Linked DNA regions of Homo sapiens: regions 2, 3 and 4 are each linked to region 1. The links come from fine-mapping of genetic effects on gene expression. A gene starts in region 1. Each other region holds a variant in brackets. All regions are shown on one strand. Distances are between the middles of the regions. Region 1 holds the start of MERTK (MER proto-oncogene, tyrosine kinase). Region 2 overlaps TMEM87B (transmembrane protein 87B). Region 3 overlaps MERTK (MER proto-oncogene, tyrosine kinase). Region 4 overlaps MERTK (MER proto-oncogene, tyrosine kinase).

What was found.
Region 2: its variant is fine-mapped to the expression of MERTK in whole blood (TOPMed, PIP above 0.99).
Region 3: its variant is fine-mapped to the expression of MERTK in whole blood (TOPMed, PIP 0.99).
Region 4: its variant is fine-mapped to the expression of MERTK in whole blood (INTERVAL, PIP above 0.99).

Annotation. Positions count from the first base shown.
Region 1 is chr2:111,897,594-111,900,224 of GRCh38, forward strand. It overlaps MERTK (MER proto-oncogene, tyrosine kinase), which reads left to right and starts at 1,014. Exons shown (of 19, transcript NM_006343.3): 1 at 1,014-1,203. The coding sequence starts at 1,143. RefSeq lists an enhancer at 153-482.
Region 2 is chr2:112,058,342-112,061,046 of GRCh38, forward strand. TMEM87B (transmembrane protein 87B) reads left to right here. Exons shown (of 19, transcript NM_032824.3): 2 at 1,636-1,696. Among named protein-coding and RNA genes, the nearest start is that of TMEM87B, 4.4 kb to the left of the region's middle. RefSeq lists a silencer at 2,233-2,447. The variant G/T (reference allele first, on the strand shown) is at 1,146.
Region 3 is chr2:112,000,344-112,003,048 of GRCh38, forward strand. It overlaps MERTK (MER proto-oncogene, tyrosine kinase), which reads left to right. Exons shown (of 19, transcript NM_006343.3): 11 at 858-943. Among named protein-coding and RNA genes, the nearest start is that of TMEM87B, 54 kb to the right of the region's middle. The variant G/A (reference allele first, on the strand shown) is at 1,374.
Region 4 is chr2:112,016,243-112,018,947 of GRCh38, forward strand. All of the region lies in intron 15 of MERTK (MER proto-oncogene, tyrosine kinase), which reads left to right. Among named protein-coding and RNA genes, the nearest start is that of TMEM87B, 38 kb to the right of the region's middle. The variant G/A (reference allele first, on the strand shown) is at 1,245.

The DNA.
Region 1 (2,631 bases):
CACTGATAGGTTTAGGGAGATTTGAGGAGAGGGACATGATTTGGCTTATGTTATGTTGTTAAAGGGACCACATTAAAATACATTCATTCTAAAAGTGTTACCTTTAAGAAACTACGTATATAAATTAAGTTACTGTTGCCATTATTAGCGTAAGTAGTTACATTTCTCTTACGACTCACTCTCTGCTACTGCCTCTTGGACCCTGCACACCTTGTGGAGGCCCATGAGAGTGACGTGCTGTGGTTCCCCCTCTCCCCACTCCTGCTCTGCACTTTGTCATTCACGTTCATCTCCCTCCTTGAGTGTCACCTCTCTCTGGCTCGTCACGGAGCCACGGCAAAGCGTCCTTTCCCAGGAACCCCTCCCCCTGGGGAGGTGAGCTCCTCGCCGCCAGGGCCGTGTCGCGCACCTCGGGCCGGGTACCCAGGCGGCGCTCGGCGGCGAGCGGAATGGATGTGGAGGAGCGCTCGGCAGGGAGCGCTGCCGCCCTGGCCTTGGCCTCTGGGAGCGGCGCGGCCAGGGTTTTCTGTGTCAGCCAAGCCCGGAATGCGGGGGCGCCTCTGGACCCTCCTCTTGGGTCTGGGGGCTGCCTCGGGCATCCTCTACTCCTCTCCCACCTTCTGTCCTTCCCCATCTCCCACCCACACGTGTGGGGCCCCGGACCCGCGCAGCGGCCAGAGCCTTCCGCTGTGGACCTCCAGTCCACCCCTCCCCTTCACTTCTCTTTCCGGCTCCCTCCGGGTCTCTCAGCCCCCTCCCCTTCCTCTCCGCCCCCTTCCCCGCCGTCTGCCCAGCGGCGGCCTTCGGCCCGCCCCTTCTCTCCAACCCCCTCCCTTTCCCCTTTACGCCCCTCCTCCCCCTCGTCCTCCCGCCCCCTCCCACCCCAACCTGCTGGGCCCGCCGGGACTCGCCCCCCTGCCCGCTCCTCTCCTCCAGCCCCGGCCGGCCTCGGCTCGGCCCCCGGCCCGCCCCTTCCAGCCCTCGGCACCTCCCGCCGGCCGCTTGGCTCCGCCACTCGGCACTCACTGCCCGGGCCGCCCGGACAGGGAGCTTCGCTGGCGCGCTTGGCCGGCGACAGGACAGGTTCGGGACGTCCATCTGTCCATCCGTCCGGAGAGAAATTACAGATCCGCAGCCCCGGGATGGGGCCGGCCCCGCTGCCGCTGCTGCTGGGCCTCTTCCTCCCCGCGCTCTGGCGTAGAGGTGAGTGCGCCCGGCTGGGGGCCAGGCGAGGGGGTGGGGGCTCCCAGGAGGAAGCAGGGGCCTCTGGGGAGGGAGCGCGTCCACAGGGGCGCGCCTGGCTGCTGGACAAGTTTGCAAACACCCTCCACCCACTGCGGTGCCAGAGGAGGGGGCGTAGGCGAACCTACCGTCCACTGACCGCGGCGCCTCAAGCGTCCCGAGGGCACCCAGCCTGGCTTGCGGGTGCGCATCGTGGTGAAGCCGGGTCGGGGTCGGCGTTGCAGGCTCCCCTCTTCACCGCAGAGGAGGAAATCGAGCTCGGCCGGGCGCGCTGCAAGTCCTGAAGTTCCGACGAGTGGAACGTAGGTAGCAGGTCTGGTCTGGGATGCGACGAGAACTTTCCACTAGAGTTGCATGGTGGGGCCCCGCTCTGGCCGGAGTCCCGGGGGCCACAGATCCGGTCTCCCGAGGGACCGGCGCGGGGCGAACGAACGGGCTGCGGGAGTCGGAGCCGCAGTCCGGGAGCCGCGATAGACTGAGGCCGAGCGACGGGCCAGGGGGGGACGGCAGTCCTGGCTGCTCCCAATGGGCCCTTACGGGCATTATTAGTATCCCTTTTTAGGGGCACCCAGAGAGTGTGGGAAAAGGGGAGCGTTCTTTTCACTCCTGTTATGGCAGAACAGAACTTACAGTGCTCGGCAGCGTTTACGTTTATCTGGATTCAGCGAAGTGTTGTTACAGGCTTTTTTTTTTTTAATTTGAGACCGAGTCTCGCCCTGTCGCCCAGGCTGGAGTGCCGCGGCGCGATCTCGGCTCACTGCAGGCTCCGCCTCCCGGGTTCAAGCGATTCTCCTGCCTCAGCCTCCCGAGTAGCTGAGACTATAGACGCGCGCTACCACGTCCGGCTAATTTTTGTATTTTTAGTAGAGACGGGGTTTCACCATGTTGGCCAGGATGGTCTCGATCTCTTGACCTCGTGATCTGCTCTCCTTGGCCTCCCAAAGTTCTGGGATTACAGTCGTGAGCCACCGCGCCCGGCTTGTTCCAGGCATTTTAATACAAGATGCTGGACTGATACGTGGAGGCAAGGAAGGCCGGTTTCATTCTGCTTGAACAGCTTATTTGGGGAGTGAGTGATGAACAGATTTCAAGTTTGATCGCTGATGCACTTCTTGAGGAGGCTGGAATAAACTTACCAGGCTTTACCCAAAAGAAAAAGAAAGGGGAAAAATGCTAAATAAACACATTCCAAGTATTTTCTCTCAGCTAAAAGGTTTCTATTTCCATTCAGCATGTAGATTTTCTCTCTTTTGATCGAGAATGCACTTGACTAGCCTTCACCTATTACAGTCAAAGATGTTTTTTAGGAATACCTGGAAAGCTCAGTTTATAGTCAAGTAAGTTACTTAAAAGTTTTTCCTTTGAGATTTTCCTTTGAAAGCTCATTTA
Region 2 (2,705 bases), 160 kb after region 1:
TCATATCATTAAGCACAGTGAGCTAAGTTCAGGACTGGAGGGGGTAGTGAGGAATGTTGTGGACTACAGATTGCATGCCCATTCTGAAGAGGGCAGCTGCCATTTGGCTTCAGCTTACTCTGCATACATTCTAGCAGAGTGGGCACAGAATTGCCACAGCTCGTTTTTTTAAGTGAGACTGGAATCCATCTTTTTATTATGTCAACTAAAGTTTTAAAAAGGCCTCTTGTGGGCCCAGTATATCCCATTTTTAGGTTGGATTAGACCTCCAGACTCCCAGTAGCTACTTTAGGATGTGAATGAGGGAGCCATTGAAAGATCTTAGACATAATGCTAATCACTATGGCTGCTGTCTAAAGATGAATTATAGGATCAGATCTGGAGGTAGAAGTACCAGTTAAGCTATTGCAGAAATTAGGCAGGAAATGCAGAGGGCCTAAATTAGGGCAGTGGTGACAGAGATGGAGAGGAAGAACTAAATTTGATAAATGTTTGTGAGATAAAGTAGGCATGCCTTGGGGATTGGGTGATGGAAGTGGGGAACTGGAAGGAGCCATGGCTTGGGTGACTGTAGATGGTACCACCTCCAGCCAAGGTGGACAATGTAGGAAAAGTTGGTGAGCAGAGAGGAGTGTGTCTGGTTTAAAACAGGTTTGTCTGTTGGACATCTGTCAGTGGACATGTCCTTTAGGCAGTTGGGTATTTGGATCTGGAGCTCAAAGGAAGGATCCAAGTTGGGAATTTTATTGTTGTTGTTGAAACTCTGTTGGGGAAGGGAAGAGGTTACCACTTGTCCTATCAGTGTTTTTTGTTTTGTTTTGTTTTGTTTTTAATGCCTAATCATTTGTACATTTAACACAGTCTCTAACTGCAGGATTTTTATTCCTGAGAAGACATTAAACAACTAATCAATTATTTGATTTAAATTGTGGAAAGGTTGTGAAGAAGAAAGGGTGCTAGGGATTATATAAGGGAGGGCCTGGCCGGATATGGGCCACAGTGGAAGAATTCCTGCAGAACGGGCTTTTGAGCTGGGCTTTGAAGGGTGAGAAGGAGCCAACTAGATGAACAAAGGGTGAAAGGAAGGATTTTAAAGTAAATTTTTCAGGTTGACCACTAATCCTGAGGGCAGGAAAGAATATCAT[G/T]CTTTTCTGGAACTGGAAAGTTGAGAGGTGGGCAGGACTTGATTATTCACGTCCTATAGGCTACAGTAAGAATTTCGGTCTGTTGTAATTGCATTGGTAAACCATAACGACTTGGAGCTGGGAGAGGGGGACAGTTCCTTATCAAAAGTACATTCAAATTGACGCCAGGAGAGCAACATGCAAATGCAGTCAGTTCATGTCACGTCTGAGCAGCACTAATCCTGCAATGGCAGCATCTTTTACCTCTTATGTGTCACTGGCCCTAACTGAGTCTGCTAGAGGCCAGAGCCCTCCTGATCCTCAGGGTAACTGCAGGAAGTAGAACCATGACAAGGTTTTAAGCAAGTTAGTGATGTGATCAGATTTACGTTAAAAAAATACTCTTGTCAGAGAGAGGAGTGCAAGGCTTAGAACTCTATATGTTGTGGGGTAAAACAGTTGCAAAAAAAACTTTCTAACAAGATCTTCCTGTGTTTGTTTTTCATTTTAGAAATCAGGACCTTTGATATTTAGGAAAACTATGTTTAACTCTACAGATATCAAGTTATCTGGTAAGTATAATAAAACAATAAAATACTAGACTGGGCGCAATGGCTCACGCCTGTAATCCCGGCACTTTGGGAGGCCGAGGCAGGTGGATCACAAGGTCGGGAGTTCAGGACGAGCCTGGCCAACATAGTGAAACCCCGTCTCTACTAAAAATACAAAAAAAGTTAGCTGGGCATGGTGGTGGGCACCTGTAGTCCCAGCTACTTGGGAGGCTGAGGCAGGAGAATCACTTGAACCCGGGAGGCAGAGCTTGCAGTGAGCCGAGATCGCGCCACTGCACTCCAGCCTGGGCGACACAGTGAGACTCTGTCTCAAAAACAAACAAACAAGAATAATGAAATACTAATATATATATAAACAACATAATATAAACAAATACATTCATGTAAATGAATATAACATATATAATAAACTAAGCAAATGTTTTGTTTTTAAGTAGTTCTAACATTTTAAGGTTTTGTTTTGTTTCAGTCAGCACTTGGTTATTTACAAGAATGGATTTTTCTTTTTTTTTTTCTTGAGACAGAGTCTTTCTCTGTCACCCAGGCTGGAGTGCAGTGGCAAGATCTCGGATGACTGCAACCTCCGCCTCTCAGGTTCAAGTGATTCTCCTGCCTCAGCCTCCCTAGTAGCTGAGATTACAGGCGAACGCCACCACGCCCAGCTAATTTTTGTATTTTTAGTAAAGATGGGGTTTCACCATGTTGGCCAGGCTGGCCTCCAACTCTTGACCCCAGGTGATCCACCCACCTCAGCCTCCCAAAGTGCTGGGATTACAGGCATGAGCCACTGTGCATGGCCCACAAGAATGGATTTTTCTGATCTTCTTTCAGAAAATGTAATGTGAATCATTTTATGAAAATTATAATTAAAGTCTAATAGACGAACAAAAAAAATTTGTTTTTTGTGAAATTTAACTTTGAGTCTCAGATTTTTAAAACTAGATAAATTGCTTTTACGAATATATGAAATGTCATGATTGTGATAAACCCTTTATGGCCTTGAAAATTT
Region 3 (2,705 bases), 100 kb after region 1:
TAATGTCCCTTTAGTGTTCTGGGATCCCTTCCAGGATGCCACATTTTACAGTCAGTCATCACATCTCCTTAGGCTCCTCTTGGCTGTGGCCATTTCTTAGACCTTCCTTGTCTTTGATGATCTTGCCAGTTTTCAGAAGTGTTAGTCGGGTGTTTTGTAGGATGCCCCTCTATTGCAATGTGTTCGATGTTTTGCTGATAATGAGCAGGGGTTATGGGTGATTGAGAGGAGGAGCACAGAATTAAAATGCCATTGTCATCACTTCTTATCAAGGGTGCATATTAACATGATGTATCACTGTTGATGTTGACATTGATCACCTGGCTGAAGTAGTATTTGCTGGGTTTCTCTACCATGAAGTTATTTTTTCTCCCTTTCCCTACTGTTCTTTGGAAGCAAGTCACTATGCATAGCCCATATTGACAGCATGAGGGTTTAACTCCCTCCACCCCTTACTAGCTACATAAAATATTTGGAATTCTTCACCACAGGAGATTGGTGTCTTTTCTTCCATTCATTCATTCAATCATATTTTCATAAGTATAGACTTATGGATATTCATTTTATACTCATAGTCTAGTATTACTTTAGTTTCTTGCTCAGACTGTTACAGCTTTGGCCACTGGGAGCTTATCTGTTATTCTCTGTTCTTGGCGGTACCTGGCTAGAGTAGTTTCAATATTGCCAAGTAAGTCTAAAATAAATCAAAGGAAAGAAACACGTTTCTTCTAGGGGGAAAGCTTTTGTTGTAGAAGAGCCCATTGAAAAGCGGAAGCTCTGTAGCATCCTTGTGGAATCAGTGCCTGCCCCAGTAGCCCTGTTTTTATAGTGAAGTATCTTTGTTTTCATTCACCCAGGAATGCATTCACAGAGGAGGATTCTGAATTAGTGGTGAATTATATAGCAAAGAAATCCTTCTGTCGGCGAGCCATTGAACTTACCTGTAAGTTGACTTTCATTTCCCTTTTTGGCAAAAGTTAAAATAGTTGAGAACAAAGAAGGATCAATAGACAGATTTCTAACAAAAGCCAAAGATGTCGAAGAAGAATGGATATTTTTAATGTACAAAATGTCTTTAAAAGCAGCAAGTAGATAGCCAGACATTGCCATGCACAGCTCTGTGGGCTAATTTACTGCAATCAGGAGCTTGACCTGGGGTTAAAAGGACTCACAATGTCATGAAATGTGGCAGAAAAGAGGAACCTTCTAGGGTGACAGAAGATGGGTAGAGGCCAGGGATTTAAAGAAAACTTCTAACTAGTGAACATAATCTCAAGCCTCATTTCCTGTTTTCCTGGCAACCAACTCCGAGGATGATTTGCCAACATGCTTTATAGTAATTATGGTTTGAGCTTTGCTGAATCAGAGAGTGG[G/A]GGCTTCTGGTTTAAACAGCGGAAATAAACAGACACTAGTGTTCCTGAATAATTTCAGAAAAAGTATAGAAAGGACATGCAAATATTAACAAATTCATGCTTCTGGATGTTTGCCCCCAATAAAGAAAATAGATAAGAATGACAGAATACAGGTTGCTATGAAATAGAAACTTGCTTGGTGTAGAATATTATTAATTTCTTTACCTTTCTAGTCTGTAAGTTTTGACTTTTAGATATCCTCAATTTTTTTTTTAATTTAAAATTTTAAAATTTGTCATTTAGACCACTTTCTTTCCTTTATTGGAGAACCACTGGATAAAGCTTTTTCTCTGAGAACTAATGTGTCCTAATTATCCACATTTTTTTGATCTTTCAAGAGCTTGTTCATGCCTTAACTGTGGTCCAGACTGAATCATTTGCCAAGAGTTGTTGAACTGGTCCCCTTCTGGTTAATTTCTCTTGTTGCCAACATGACTCATCTATTATATACCTTACTATATTATATATTTTATTATAGAAAAATCTTTTTCTCCAATTCCTCAAAGTGCTCAATTTAGCCCTTGCTATGCTGTTATAATAGGTTTCATATACAGTATGTAAAATAAGAGCTTATTCTCTAGATGTTTCCTGTGGTTTGTGAGACTCCGTCCATGGCATGGGAGGGTAGGGGACGTGTGGTTCTTTTGTATACTGTAGTCAAGGGTATAATATTAATAGTAAAGAATTCACCAGAAATTACCTATTGACTTATCTTCCTTACCCCTTTAAGTCAAAGGCAAACCACCCCTACATGAATCTGATTACCGGCTGCTGCTACCACACAACAGAATGAGAAATGTGGTTCTGATTTTTGTAATTCTTCAGAATTAACCTTGCCCTGAAGGATTCATTATACTTAGTTTAATCATTCTAAAGTATGAAATTTTATTACTGGCATTTTTGGGAGAGAAATAATAGATACAAAATGAAAAAAGGGGCCGGCTATGGTGGTTCACACCTGTAATCCCAGCACTTTGGGAGGCCGAGGTGGGTAGATCACTTGAGGTCAGGAGTTCGAGACCAGCCTGGCCCAGATGATAAAACCCGTCTCTACTGAAAATACATAAATTAGCTGGGTGTGGTGGTGCATGCCTGCAGTCCCAGCTACTTGGGAGGCTGAGGCACAAGAATCGCTTGAACCCAGGAGGCAGAGGTTGCAGTGAGCCAAGGTTGCACCATTGCACTCCAGCCTGGGCAACAGAGCTAGACTCTGGCTCAATAAATAAATAAATAAATAAGGAATGTTTTATTATACAGGACTTTATTTCATTTTAATTATCAAGTGAAAGAAAA
Region 4 (2,705 bases), 120 kb after region 1:
GAAACAAGTACACAACATTTTACTGACTGATGAATAGTTTCCATTTGCAAAAAAATACAAGTGTATTTTCAATGATGGAAAATAACTTTCAAGTATTAAAAAGATAAAAAGGAATGTAGTTTCCTATTTTGTTGCTTAGTAGCCACAGATAAGGTGGAAGACACAAAGTGCATAGACAAACAGAAAAATCAAGCTTTTATTCAGATCTTTTCTTTGCTGCCTGGAATAAATAGCTCCTGCTCCTGCTAGAGCAGCCCAAGACTATTATCAGTGCATTTGATACTGCGATGGCCCAATATCAATGTATTTAAACATGCTTCTCCAGGAGGGCTAGGGTGCTGGACCCATAGTGCCACTCTGCCCAGGGCAGACATTGTCTCTGGAGCTGTGCAGGGCAGACAGGTAGATGATGAGACATGACCCCCAGTTCTCATGGAGATCGATAGTACAAAGGGAGATAGGCTGTAATAACATATGCATCACACAGTGATGTGAGCAGCCTGCTAGAGCTTCAGGGAAGAAATGAGTTCTGACTGGAGAAATGTTTAAAATATTCTACACTGCTGACTGGGTGTGGTGGCTCACGCCTGTAATCCCAGCAGTTTGGGAGGCCAAGGCGGGTGGATCACCTGAGGTCAGGATGTGTCCGGAGTTGGTTCCTTCTGGTGGGTTCTTGGTCTCGCTGACTTCAAGAATGAAGCCGCGGACCTTTGCAGTGAGTGTTACAGCTCTTAAAGATGGCATGGACCCAAAGAGTGAGCAGCAGCAAGATTTATTGTGAAGAGTGAAAGAACAAAGCTTCTACAGTGTGGAAGGGGACTCAAGCGGGTTGCCACTGCTGGCTGGGGGTGGCCAGCTTTTATTCCCTTATTTGTCCCCACCCACATCCTGCTGATTAGTCCATTTTACAGAGTGCTGATTGGTCCATTTTACAGAGTGCTGATTGGTGCATTTACAACCCTCTAGCTAGACACAGAGTGCTGATTGGTGCATTTACAGTCCTTTGGCTAGACACAGAGCACCAATTGATGCGTTTTTACAGAGTGCTGAATGGTGCATTTACAATCCTTTAGCTAGACACGGAGCACTGATTGGTGCATTTACAATCCTCTAGCTAGACAGAAAAGTTCTCTAAGTCCCCACTCAACCCAGAAAGTCCAGCTGGCTTCACCTTTCAAGGAGTTTGAGACTGGCCTGGCCAACATGGAGAAACCCCATCTCTACTAAAAACATAAAAATTACCC[G/A]GGCGTGGTGGTGCATGCCTGTAATACCAGCTACTTGGGAGGCTGAGGCAGGAGAATCGCTTGAACCTGGGAGGGAGAGTTTGCAGTGAGCTCAGATCGCGCCACTGCACCACTCCAGTCTGGGTGACAGAGCACGACTTCGTCTCAAAAAAAAAAAAATTCCACACTGCCATCATGGATATCCTCAAAAGAGTGGTAGGAGGAGTACAGTGGAAAATTAAGAGCAGCACACAAGATCAGAATGAGCAAAGACCAAATGATCTGGGAGCATACCTATGTTTTAAGAAAAGCAGATTGTCTCACATGGCAACAGCAAAGCAATGGAAGGATAGGAGGAGGGGTGATAAAACAGGAAAGAGAAGTTGGGGTCAATGTTTAGGTTCTACAACAAGTAGAATGACTTCACCAGCATGTAATACAAAACCCAACTCAAAATGACTTTCAACGGAGATACAGGATCTCATGCAATAAAGCCCAGAAGTAGCACAGTTCCAGAGTTGGCTAGGTGGGTGCTTGAGGAATTAATTGAGAAATTAAAGGGCTACAATTGCATTTGTAGCCCAAGCTATTAAAACAGCTCCTACACAAGAAGAAGGAGGAGGAGAAGAAAGAATTTTCTTAATTTCATTTTCAGATTATTCATCACTAGTATATAAAAATACAGTTGATTTTTGTATGTCCATCTTGTATCCTACAACCTTGCTGAACTCATTTATTAATTCTGCTATACAATTATTTTTTAAGTGACTTTTGGTCACAGTCTCCAGGAATAACAGAAGTGTTCTAGGAAAAAACAGCACAAATGAATAGTACCTGATACTCATTACATCTTCATGAATGACAGCAAGATGCAATATTTCTTATGACCCAAATCCTTTCCTGGAAATCAGTATCTAGAAAACCAAATACCCAAATAATACAGAATAGAGGCATAAAACTTCCATACTTAAAGATTAAGACATTTCATTTATTTATACAGTATGTAATTGACATGTGTCTTGGAGTATAAAATCATTGAAAATGCAATGTCTTTCCAAAATGAGTACCATTTTGGAAAACTCATGTTTGGAAAGGAAGCCATGGCAAATTCAGTGCCTTGGGGAGGGTACATAATGGATGGACCCATTCATGACTGCCAGGGACTTGTGCAAATCCTTTTCTGCAGGGCCATGATTGCACTAAAACACTTAATTACTACATGGAAGTTTTATCAGCAGTCATCCTCATAACTGATTCCAACAGTGGCTGGTTTTCTAACACAGCAATCTAGTTTGATTTTTATAAGCTAGAGAAAACACTAGACTGTTGAAACTTATAGGCAGGGCCTACGGGAGCAAAATGAAAATTCCTGAATATGTACTTGTGGTGCTTTGGTCCTGTGATAATTGGTGAAGACTCTCCTAATTTCTGTTTAGAAGAAACGAGTATCTTTCAAAACATTTCGTAGTAAAATGGTAGCAG